Linked DNA regions of Homo sapiens: region 2 is linked to region 1. Evidence: fine-mapped expression QTL. A gene starts in region 1. The other region holds a variant in brackets. All regions are shown on one strand. Distances are between the middles of the regions. Region 1 holds the start of TARBP2 (TARBP2 subunit of RISC loading complex). Region 2 overlaps ATP5MC2 (ATP synthase membrane subunit c locus 2).

Region 1 (5,368 bases):
CCCTTAAACATGGTCGGACATCATTCATAAGGCTGTCTGAAAATCACAAATGACCTCTTGTCCCAAGAGCTTACCAGCTGCTGTGATTTCTTCAAGTTCTGGTTCCCAACTATTCCATTCTGTTTATTCTCAGACTTCCTCATGCCTGACCAGCTTGGGTCCAAGGACTGAGGGACCAAAAACCAGAACCCCTTCCTCCACCCACCTCAGGCAGTCAGGGGACACAGATACCTGGTTAGGACTACAGATGGAACTGGGGTAGCAGCTGCTGCAGCAGTAAAAACCGGAATGTCCTCAGGCAGTGAAGAGTCTAGGGGAGAAAAAGAACTTCCCGAGGGGAAGGGGGCCTTTGATTCACACCCATGTATAGGGGGAAGAGAGGGGTGGGGGACCCACGTCCTCCTGACCTCCCAATCCCCTAAGAGAACTTCCAAATTGAGCCAAAGAATCAGGGAGGCTCAACCAACAGCTTCCTCCTCGGATCCTTTGCTGCCAAACACCGGCGAAAAGACTGAGAAAAGAGAGTCTCAGAGAAGAGGGTATCTTTGTACCCAAGAACCAGAGGAGCAACAAACTCCAACCTGCGCGTGAAGGAAGGACATCTTGCTAGAACAAGGAGGTATGTTGGGGAGTAACTCCCTTTAGCCTCAAGCCTCTACCCCTCTCCCTCCCTAACCCAGGCCCCAACCTACTGCCACAACCCCTCTATGGGGCTAACCAACCCCTCCACCCCAAGAATTCTTCATAGCAGCAGAAGCCCTGGAAAACCCTGTTCAGGTCCAGAGGGACTCTCAGGAAGAGGCCAGGTCAGGGTGGCTAAGTGTCACCTGGCCAGGCCTCGGGGCAGAGTGGGTGGTGCAGGGCCTGGGTTCCTTGAAGGGCTTCTGGGATGCCTCGGTTCCTCCCTCACCTGCTGTCCTCCAGGGCCGGCTCCAGCATGCTCCCCCCTTTGAGGTGTTTGAGGGCCACCTCAGCTGCCTTGTGCTTGGCTGCCTTCTTGCTGGGGCCCTGACCTGAGAGAGGGGGCATGGGCAATACTGGAGGTCACTGAAAGGACGGGAAAGAAACCAGCATCCCACAGCCTCTCTCCTCGTAGCCAGAGGGAATCAATCAAGCCCCTTCTGACCAACCTCCCCCTGCTGAAGACTGGAAGTGTTTCACTAATTGCTGGAAGGAAGAGCCCTTATCTTTCCGTTAGCTTCCAGAATTAAGCCATGCCAAGCAGGACTTCTGAGCTCAAACGCCTTGGGTGGACTTCTGAGCGCAAATGCTTTAATTTCCTTTGCAAAGCACTTTCTTTTCCCTCAATAAATACAGAGAGCTGGAATAAGAGAGGGTAGGCTCTGGAGTAAAAGCCCCACTCTGCCACATACTAGGCATGTGACCATGCACCAGCCATTTACTATCTCAAACACTCAGTTTCCTCATATTCAACATGGGCGGGCGGGGGGAGGAGTCGGGGGGGCGGATACTACCACCTACAATCATTGGTTAGACTGAGGTTTAAAATTAAACGGGAATTTGGTTAAGCACCGGGAACAGAGCCCAGCACGCCAGGCACTCACTCCCCCAAATACTCCACTGGGATTTCAGTTATCTTCTCTTACTTTTCCTCTAGGGTGATGGGGATCTGCCAGATCACTGTGGGAGTCCTGCTCGCTCCTCTAACTCTCCCACGTCCTACCCACCTTCTTACAGCCCTGTTCTCCCAATCCAGTCAGTAGCTTTTCCCCTGAAATCTCTCCTTCCCTCACTGGCCTTGGAGAAAAGGACTGTGAAGAGAGAGACTCCAAGAAACAAAGCCATGGGGACCTGCAAATGCACACCCCAGCCAGGCTGCCCAAGCCTTCCTCACCAGTGCAGCTGGTGTCGCCAACGGTGACCCGGAAGGTGAAATTAGGCTGGTGGGCTTGGCCCTCGGCTTTGAGAAGGTCGTACACAGGCGTCTTCCCTATTCTGGTCCCATACTCCTGCAGAAGGCTGATCGGGGTCTTGCCTGGGTTGGCGGCCAGCATTTGCTCTATACTGGGGGAAGGGGCACAGACCCACATCACACCTCCCCTCTCTGCACCCACCTAGCCAAGCACTTCCATACCAGACCTAGGCACATTATGGGGGACATAGGGTCCAAGGAACCCCAGACAGTCTAGCATCCATTGGCTGGGTTCCAAGTGGAGGTGCAGGCTGGAAAAGTAGGGCCCACTACCCCAAAGCAAGGGGGGAAGAATGCATTGCTCCTGCCTCAGTTAAGGTGGGCACGATCCTGTGCCCCAATGCAGGTTGAAAGTGCATACCCCCTGACACAGTGCAAGCCAGGAACCCAGTACCCACCAAATGCACTGAATGTGGGGGCATAAAGCCCAGTGTTCCAGTGCAGTCTGGGAACCGGGCCAACCCCAAACTATTTAGAGCTGGAGGCAGCAGCCACTGCCCCGGTGCACGCCGGGAACCACTGCCCACTGCCCCAGTGCTTGCCGGGAACAACCCTCAGGCCAGGTGCATGCTGGGGCCGCGCCGCTACTCCCTCCGCACGGCCCCACGCTTTTCGCCCTGAAGGAATCGGTACGAGACGGCTCACCTAGGCAGCCCGCAGCCCGTGGTAGTGCCGGAGCCTTGCTCCTCTTCACTCATTCCCTCCTCCGTCCCCGCGGGCGCCACCGTGACTGCAGCCTCCACGCGCCCCAATACACAGCCGACGAGCTAGGGCCGGGGCCAAGCCCGGAGTCGCGGCCGGTAGGGCCCGCCGCGGGGCACGCTGGGATATGGAGTCCCCCGCCCACCCTACTTCGTGAGCCTCCATCTGGAGGGGAGCTATCCGCCCCACAACCCTCTGCGTGCGTGGCTCGCCCGGGCAGGCTGCACCGCCTTCTGGGAGGAGCGGGCCCTCCGCCGTCGCTTCTCGAGAAGGCCGTATTTTTTTGTTTGTAATACCGTCCCGCCTCCTTCCTTCCGCGCCCCCTCTCTCCCGGTCCGTGAAGCTGTGGACATGCGTACTAGCGGAGGGGAAGCCGCTGGGTAGGGAGGCGGTAAGGACTCACTTGGGCACGGAGCCTTTTGGATCGCGAGAAAACTACAGAACCCAAGAGCCCGCGCGCCATCTGTGTCGCAGCTGGAGAGGCAGGGTCAAGCACGCACGAGAAGCTTCATGGCGTCATTGGTTACTCCCATTGCGATTACTTCCCCTAGGTGCACTGAGATTGGTTACTTCGACTAAAGGGGCGGAGACAAGGAAAAGTCAGCCCCCCCCGACCCCGCCTCCTTGATGAAGGAAGGTTGTGATTGGTCCGGAGAGGCTGCCGTCGGATCCTGGCTCTTTGCGGTCTGGGAGGGTGGGCCTTACCTAGACGCCGGAGGGGACCGATCTCTGTTTCCGCAGGGCTCTGGAGCTGGTGCAGGTTTAAGTCCGTCTCAGACAGTCCCCTCAACCCACAGCCTAAGCCCCTTGCCCTTGGGCCTCCGTGACACAGAACTTGCTTCCTTTTCCTAGGTCGTCCTTCACCTCCCTTCAGGTGTTGCTTCTTTTGTGAAACCTTTTTAGAACCGCTCTAGTGAACCTCTCTTTAACTGGCGAGGAAACCTCTGGGGCCTGATAATCAGGCTGTAATGTGGGACGACAGGATTAGAAGGACTAGGCACCTTGGTGGTCTTGTTCCCTCTTCCATGAGTCTTGGGTCTCTCAGCTGAAGAGAGCAAAAGTGAATTTTGGCCGCCTAAGATTAATCAACTGATCTGGGTGTTGAGCAGACGCGCATTGTTTAGTCCTAGAGCCCCATTGCCTCCTCCCCCAAAGTTGCACAACCACTGGGCTGAGGGAAATCTTGTGACCTTGGAGAGAGAAAGGGAGAGACCACATTAAAAAAAAAAAAGGTTCTAATGAGTGTTCTGAGAAGGGGTCAAGAAAGATGTCTTACTCTGAGCCGGGGTTGGAGGTCCAGAGGAATCTTGAAATGATAATGAGGGGTCATCCAGGAACACTGGAGGAGGATGGGGCCTAGAGCCGAGTGAATTCCAAGTGGGTGAAATTGGAGTGAGTGGTGACAATCAAGGGAAGGAGAGCTGGCAAGATCGGTATGATAGGGGGAGCAATGCCAGAGCGCTAGGGATCCCAACTGAGGGGCTGCTCTCTCCGATGTAGAAAGGAGTCTATAAGACGGGTCATAGGGGGTTCCTGTGGAATCAGCCTGAGGCCTGAGGTGGGACCTCCATAGGACACCGCCAGCAGGGAGGCGCGGGGCCCAGGCGGGCCAGGTACGAGCCTGGAGCGCGCCGGATGGCAGCAGCGGGCTCCTTTAAGAGGCCGGCGGCTCCATCGCAGCATCCCCCGCTCAGGGCGTGTCCGTCCCGGGGGGCCAGGGGCGGGGGCCCTGGAAGGAGCGGGAGTTCAAGCCGAGCAGGGACGGGGCTAGGGGTCGGGGGGTGGGGGCAGAAAGCTGAAGCTGACACCCGTGCATCCGGACACCGCACGAGCATCGCCTGTGACAGCGCCCCGGGTCCGGTGGAGGGCAGCGGGGGGAGGAGGGAAGGAGGAGGAGAAGGAGGAGGAGGCGGGAGCAGCATCCGGAGCGGAGCTGCAGCAGCGCCGCCTTTTGTGCTGCGGCCGCGGAGCCCCCGAGGTGAGAGCCTGGCCGAGTTGTGGGGGGGTGGGGGGCAGGGATGGGTCTGGGTCCTGGGATCCGGGCGTGGAGGGAGGGTCGGGATGCAGATGTGGCCTGGTGCGGGGTGATGGCGTGGGGATGCTGAGGCTGTGGGGATGGAGGAACTGGGGACCTGGACCCGACGCCTGTGGGGCTGGGAAGGAAGGGAATGGAGCGGAGGGATGCCGCGGCCCAGCTTGGAGACGAAGGGCCTCCAGAGCTGGAAAGGACCGTATTGGGGTGGGGTGGAGGATGATTGGGGGACAGACTTAAAGGACAGAGGGCAAGAGAACATCTCCTCCCACTCATCCTCAGGAAGAGAGAGAGGGAAGGAGGAGGGAGAGTTTTGGCCCCCTCTAGGGAAGGAAAGGAAGGGCAAGGACTGATATACCCACCATCTCCACACACACACACACACACACACACACACACACACACACACACACACACACACACACACACACACACACACACACACACACACACACACACACACAGCAGGCTGGACCTGAAGATTAGTCAGAGAGCACCTGTTCCTGCATGCCCAGGCGTTGGTCCCCCTCCCCTTCAAGCTGTGATCCTCCTAATCCCCTCCAGCTGTGGCATTCACCTCCAGCTGTGGCATTCACCTCCATCCAGCTGTTGCATCCTCCCCTCCCCCATTCACGTGTGGGTTTCTCCCTCCTCTTTCTCTCCATCTCCTCTGGCTCCCCTAACCCATCTCCCCCAGTCAG
Region 2 (5,368 bases), 160 kb before region 1:
CCACGCCCGGCTAATTTTTTATTTTTTTATTTTATTTTATTTTATTTTTTTGAGACAGAGTCTGACTCTGTCACCCAGGCTGGAGTGCAACTGTGTAATCTCAGCTCACTGCAACCTCTGCCTCTCGGGTTCAAGCAATTCTCTTGCCTCAGCCTCCCAAGTAGCTGGGATTACAGGTACGCACCGCTACCCCCAGCTAATTTTTGTATTTTTTTTCTTTCTTTTTTTTTTTTGAGACAGAGTCTTGCTCTGTCGCCCAGGCTGGAGTACAGTGGCTGCGGTCTTGGATCACTGCATCCTCTGCCTCCCGGGTTCACGCCGTTCTCCTGCCTCAGCCTCCTGAGTAGCTGGGACTACAAGCGCCTGCCAACACGCCTGGCTAATTTTTTGTATTTTTAGTAGAGACAGGGTGTCACCGTATTAGCTAGGATGGTCTCGATTTCCTGACCTCGTGATCTGCCCACTTCGGCCTCCCAAAGTGCTGGGATTACAGACATGAGCCACTGCGCCCAGCAATTTTTGTATTTTTGGTAGAGACAGGGTTTCACCAGGTTGGCCAGGCTGGTCTCGAACTCCTGACCTCAAGCAATCTACTCATCTCGGCCTCCCAAAGTGCTGGGATTACAGGCGTGAGCCACCGCGCCTGGCCTAATTTTTGTATTTTTAGTAGAGACGGGGTTTCACCATGTTGGCCAGGCTGGTCTCCAACTTCTGGCTTCAAGTGATCCGCCTGCTTTGGCCTCCCAAAGTGCTGGGATTACAGGTGTGAGCCACCGCACCCAGCCCATTTGTAGTTTCTTAAAGCCCCAGATCTTCTGACTATTTGAAATGAGAGAACATAATCTGTCCCTCTTACTCTTGTCTTCTAGAAGAGCGGTGTTCCATAAATCCTTAGGATTCTGAGGTTATGCCCCAGAGACTGTCTTAGAGAATAAAGGGGAGACCAAGCCGTTAAAATTTCCCCACTACTTTTGTACCATTGCAGTTTGGCTTTTAGATGTTTACTATATTGGAGTTCTGCTTAAAGTTTGAAAACACTGCTCTAGATAGACCCTTCCATCCTATTTGGGCCCTGGATATTAAGTGTCTGGGCCAAGAGGTCTTAATTTGTGGTAATGAGATGGGTGAACCATTAGTGAAGGTCATGATTATACCTGGGCCATGTTACAGGATTTTAGATTGCCTGCTCCCCCTTCATTCAGTTCCTGTAGAGCCTTTGGGGAATCAGGGCAAGAATTTGGGCATGATGGTGTTACCCTAAAAGCTTCTTTATTATGTGAGATAATCTTGAAGAGGGGGATTCTCCCTGAGCCCATCTTAGATATTTATCCTTTTCTTTGTGTGAACTAGAAATTCAGTCTTTTCTCTTCTCCTTCTACCAGGAACCCTTCTCTGAAGCAACAGCTCTTCTCCTACGCCATTCTGGGCTTTGCCCTCTCGGAGGCCATGGGGCTCTTTTGTCTGATGGTAGCCTTTCTCATCCTCTTTGCCATGTGAAGGAGCCGTCTCCACCTCCCATAGTTCTCCCGCGTCTGGTTGGCCCCGTGTGTTCCTTTTCCTATACCTCCCCAGGCAGCCTGGGGAACGTGGTTGGCTCAGGGTTTGACAGAGAAAAGACAAATAAATACTGTATTAATAAGATGTTTCTTGAGTCTCCTGTGTATATTTCTTTTCCACAGTTGGCTGAGTGCCTTCGTGAGAGTACAAGGCCCGAAGGGTAGTGATGGTGCTAAACTCAACATGGATTTGGCTGAGCTCACTTTTTCTTAATTCTGTTTCAGGAAAGCTTTATTTGAAATAGCATAACATTTTAAATTATTTTCACCTGGCATGGCCTGCTACTTGCCTGGGAAGATTGGGGTCAGTAGCAACTTCAAGTTCTGGCTTAAAATGTTGGCTAATAGGCTTTCTGTTTCCACTGTCACTCTCCTG[G/C]CTCAGGCCCTTATTGTCATCCACCTCGTCTATTGCAAGAACCTCTTAACTGGCCTTCTGCCTCCAGTCTCTTCCCTCCAGCATTTACTTCTCCTTACCACTGCCAGGTGAATCCTCCTTAAGCATAAGACTGGTTTTATCAGTTAATGGTTCAAAAAGTCACCTCAACTTTCTCTGCTTTATCTGTTTAGTCCTATACACTACATAAAGTGACTGTCATTTTTCAGATGTTTTCCTGTCTTTACCATATCTTCCTGCCTTTTCCTTTCTCTGCTCATTTCTGCTTTCTTTCCCTGCATCTTTGCTCACTTTCCTCTTTTTCGAACTCTGTTATCCCTGAAGACTTAAATTTAACCTCCATGAAGCTATTTTCTGGTTCCCATCCACCCTCAGCCAAAAGAGCATTAAAGAGCCAAAAGAGATCGCACCACTGCACTCCAGCCTGGGCAACAGAGCAAGACTGTCTCAAAAATTTTTTTCCAAATCCTTCATTGGATTATTTATTTATTTATTTATTTATTTATTTATTTATTTTTGAGATAGGCTCACTCTGCTGTGGTGCAATCTCAGATCACCGCAACCTCTGCCTCCCAGGTTCAAGCGATTCTCCTGCTGTAGCCTCCTAAGTAGCTGGGATTACAGGCGAGCACCACCATGCCCAGCTAGTTACTTTTTGTATTTTTAGTAAAGACGAGGTTTTGCCATGTTGGCCAGGCCGGTCTCGAACCCAGCCTCAAGTGATGCACCCGCCTCAGCCTCCCAAAGTGCTGGGATTGCAGGCGTGAGCTACCATGCCTGGCCTGGAATCAAAATTTTTAAAAGTCTGGGCCAGGGGCGGTGACTCAACCTGTAATCCCAGCATTTTGGGAGCCTGAGGCAGGCAGATCACCTGAGGTCGGGGGTTCGAGACCAGCCTGACCAACATGGAGAAACCCCATCTCTGCTAAAAATACAAAAGTAGCCAGGTGTGGTGGCACGTGCCTGTAATCCCAGCTACTTGGGAGGCTGAAGCAGGAGAATTGCTTGAACCCGGGAGGTGGAGGTTGTGGTGAGCTGAGATTGTGCCACTGGACTCCAGCCTGGGCAACAAGAGAGAAACTCCATCTCAAAAAAAAAGTGGCCAGAAGGCATCTAGAGAGAAAACCCAAGGATGCTGAAGGCAGCAAGACCTGCTTCCCTCTTCTCAGTTTCTTACAAGAGTCAGTTGTGTTTCTTCAGCACCACAGGAGGAGCGTCAGTAGGTTTGTGCCATCCTAAAATTAGAAGCAAATGGTGCCCTTTGAAAATCACCTCAATGCTGAACAACGGTAATGAGGAACCATGCTCCAGCCTCCCTTTCAAGATGGATTTAATAGTTTGAGGCCTTCCAAGGGCATCAGGATGAGAAAGCTGACCAGGAACAATGGTAATTTGGCTTGAGTTGGTGTCCAGGAACCTGGGGCAGCTCTGTGTCTCCACACAGATGAGATGAAGGAATATTCATGTATAATTCAGGAATAGAAAAAAAAAGGGTAGTAGTATCGCAGTAGTGAGTAGAGAATGCTGTCCTGGTCCCTCAAGTTCTAAGCAGTGAAACTTTGTCTTTTTTTGTTGTTTTTGTTGTTTTGAGACAGAGTTACATTCTGTTACCCAGGCTGGAGTGGAGTGGCACAATCTTGGCTCACTGCAACCTGCACCTCCTGGGTTGAAGTGATCCTCCTGCCTCAGCCTCCCGAGTAGCTGGGATTACAGGCACGTGCCACCACGCTCAGCTAATTTTTTGTATGTTTAGAGAGAGGGTTTCACCATGTTGGCCTGGCTAGTCTTGAACTCCTGGCCTCAGGTGATCTGCCCGCCTCAGCCTCCCAAGGTGCTGGGATTACAGGCGTGAGCCACTGTGCCCAGCCAAAACTTTGTCTTTATTGGGCCGTATCTCAAAATAGCATGCATTTTCCAACATGTATTCTTAGGAGACATTCCTGGATATCGTGGCGTTCTCACCATTTGATGAGGAAAAAGTAAAACACAGGAAGATCTTTTTGTCCCCAGGCATCCTTAAAATTTATTTTTGGCTGGACGTGGTGGCTCATGCCTGTAATCTCAGCACTTTGGGAGGCTGAGGCGGGCGGATCATGAGGTCAGGAGATGGAGACATCCTGGCCAACATGGTGAAACCCCATCTCTACTGAAAATGCAAAAATTAACCAGGCATGGTGGCGCACGCCTGTAGTCCCAGCTACTCGGGAGGCTGAGGCAGGACAATCATTTGAACCCCAGAGGCAGAGGTTGCAGTGGGCCGAGATCGCACCACTGCACTCCATCCTGGGCAACAGAGCAAGACTCTGTCTCAAAAAATATATATTTTTAAGCATTTATCTCAAGGCACTGTGAATATTAGCATATTGTAATCAAAGTAGCCACTTTAGAAATGGCAGAAGACAGGGATAGAATACCAGGCATGAGGTTAGTCCTCTTCATCCCAAGTGCTTGGCTTCTCTTATTAGTGTAAATGGTTAGTTAGAGATAATTTATTCCTGCTGCTTCCCCCAACCACCAAAGAGAAATTTTCTCTCATCTTTTGAAGTGCTAAGGTGGGCAGAATTTTTTAAGTGACCCCTTAAGAATGTCCTACCCTGGCCGGACGCAGTGGGTCACGCCTGTAATCCTAGCACTTTGGGAGGCCAAGTTGGGCGGATCACTTGACATCAAGAGTTTGAGAGCAGCCTGGCTAACATGGCAAAACCCTGTCTCTACTAAAAGTACAAAAATGAGCTTGGTGTGGCGGTATGCACCTGTAATCCCAGCTACTTAGGAGGCTGAGGTGGGAGAATCGCTTGAACCCAGGAGGCAGAGGTTGCAGTGAGCCAAGACCATGCCACTGCACTCCAGCCTGGGCGACAGAGCAAAACTCTGTCTCAAAAAAAAAAAAACTTTTTTTTTTAAACGTATGCCATACTCTTAGTATATCTGTTTTGTTTATGTGAAATAGGTGTGTGGTTTTTTGGTTTTTGGTGTTTTGTTTTGTTGGTGTTTTAACAGATGAGAAAACTAAGACTCAGATTCAAGAATCATGATTTGGACCTGACAGGGTGACACATACCTATAATCTCAGCTACTTGGGAGGCTGAGGCGGAAGGTTCTCTCGAGCACAAGATTTCAAGACCAGCCTGGGCAACATCACAAGACCTTGTCTGTTTTTAAAAAAAAAATGAATGAGGCCGGGCGTGGTAGCTCATACCTGTAATCCCAGCACTTTGGGAGGCCAAGGCAGGTGGATCACGAGGTCAGGAGTTCAAGAGCAGCCTGACCAACATGGTGAAACCCCGTCTCTACTAAAAATACAAAAATTAGCTGGGCATGGTGACGCACACCTGTAATCCCAGCTACTCAGGAGGCTGAGGCAGGAGAATCACTTGAACCCAGGAGGCAGAGGTTGCAGTGAGCCAAGATTGCACCA

What was found.
Region 2: its variant is fine-mapped to the expression of TARBP2 in prostate (GTEx, PIP 0.94).

Annotation. Positions count from the first base shown.
Region 1 is chr12:53,498,672-53,504,039 of GRCh38, reverse strand. It overlaps TARBP2 (TARBP2 subunit of RISC loading complex), which reads right to left and starts at 2,757. Exons shown (of 9, transcript NM_134323.2): 1 at 2,579-2,757; 2 at 1,856-2,025; 3 at 911-1,013; 4 at 232-327. The coding sequence starts at 2,631. It overlaps MAP3K12 (mitogen-activated protein kinase kinase kinase 12), which reads left to right and starts at 4,582. Exons shown (of 14, transcript NM_001193511.2): 1 at 4,582-4,613. RefSeq lists an enhancer at 2,823-3,122 and a silencer at 4,216-4,465.
Region 2 is chr12:53,661,443-53,666,810 of GRCh38, reverse strand. It overlaps ATP5MC2 (ATP synthase membrane subunit c locus 2), which reads left to right. Exons shown (of 5, transcript NM_005176.7): 5 at 1,383-1,641. The coding sequence ends at 1,497. Among named protein-coding and RNA genes, the nearest start is that of ATP5MC2, 12 kb to the left of the region's middle. The variant G/C (reference allele first, on the strand shown) is at 1,933.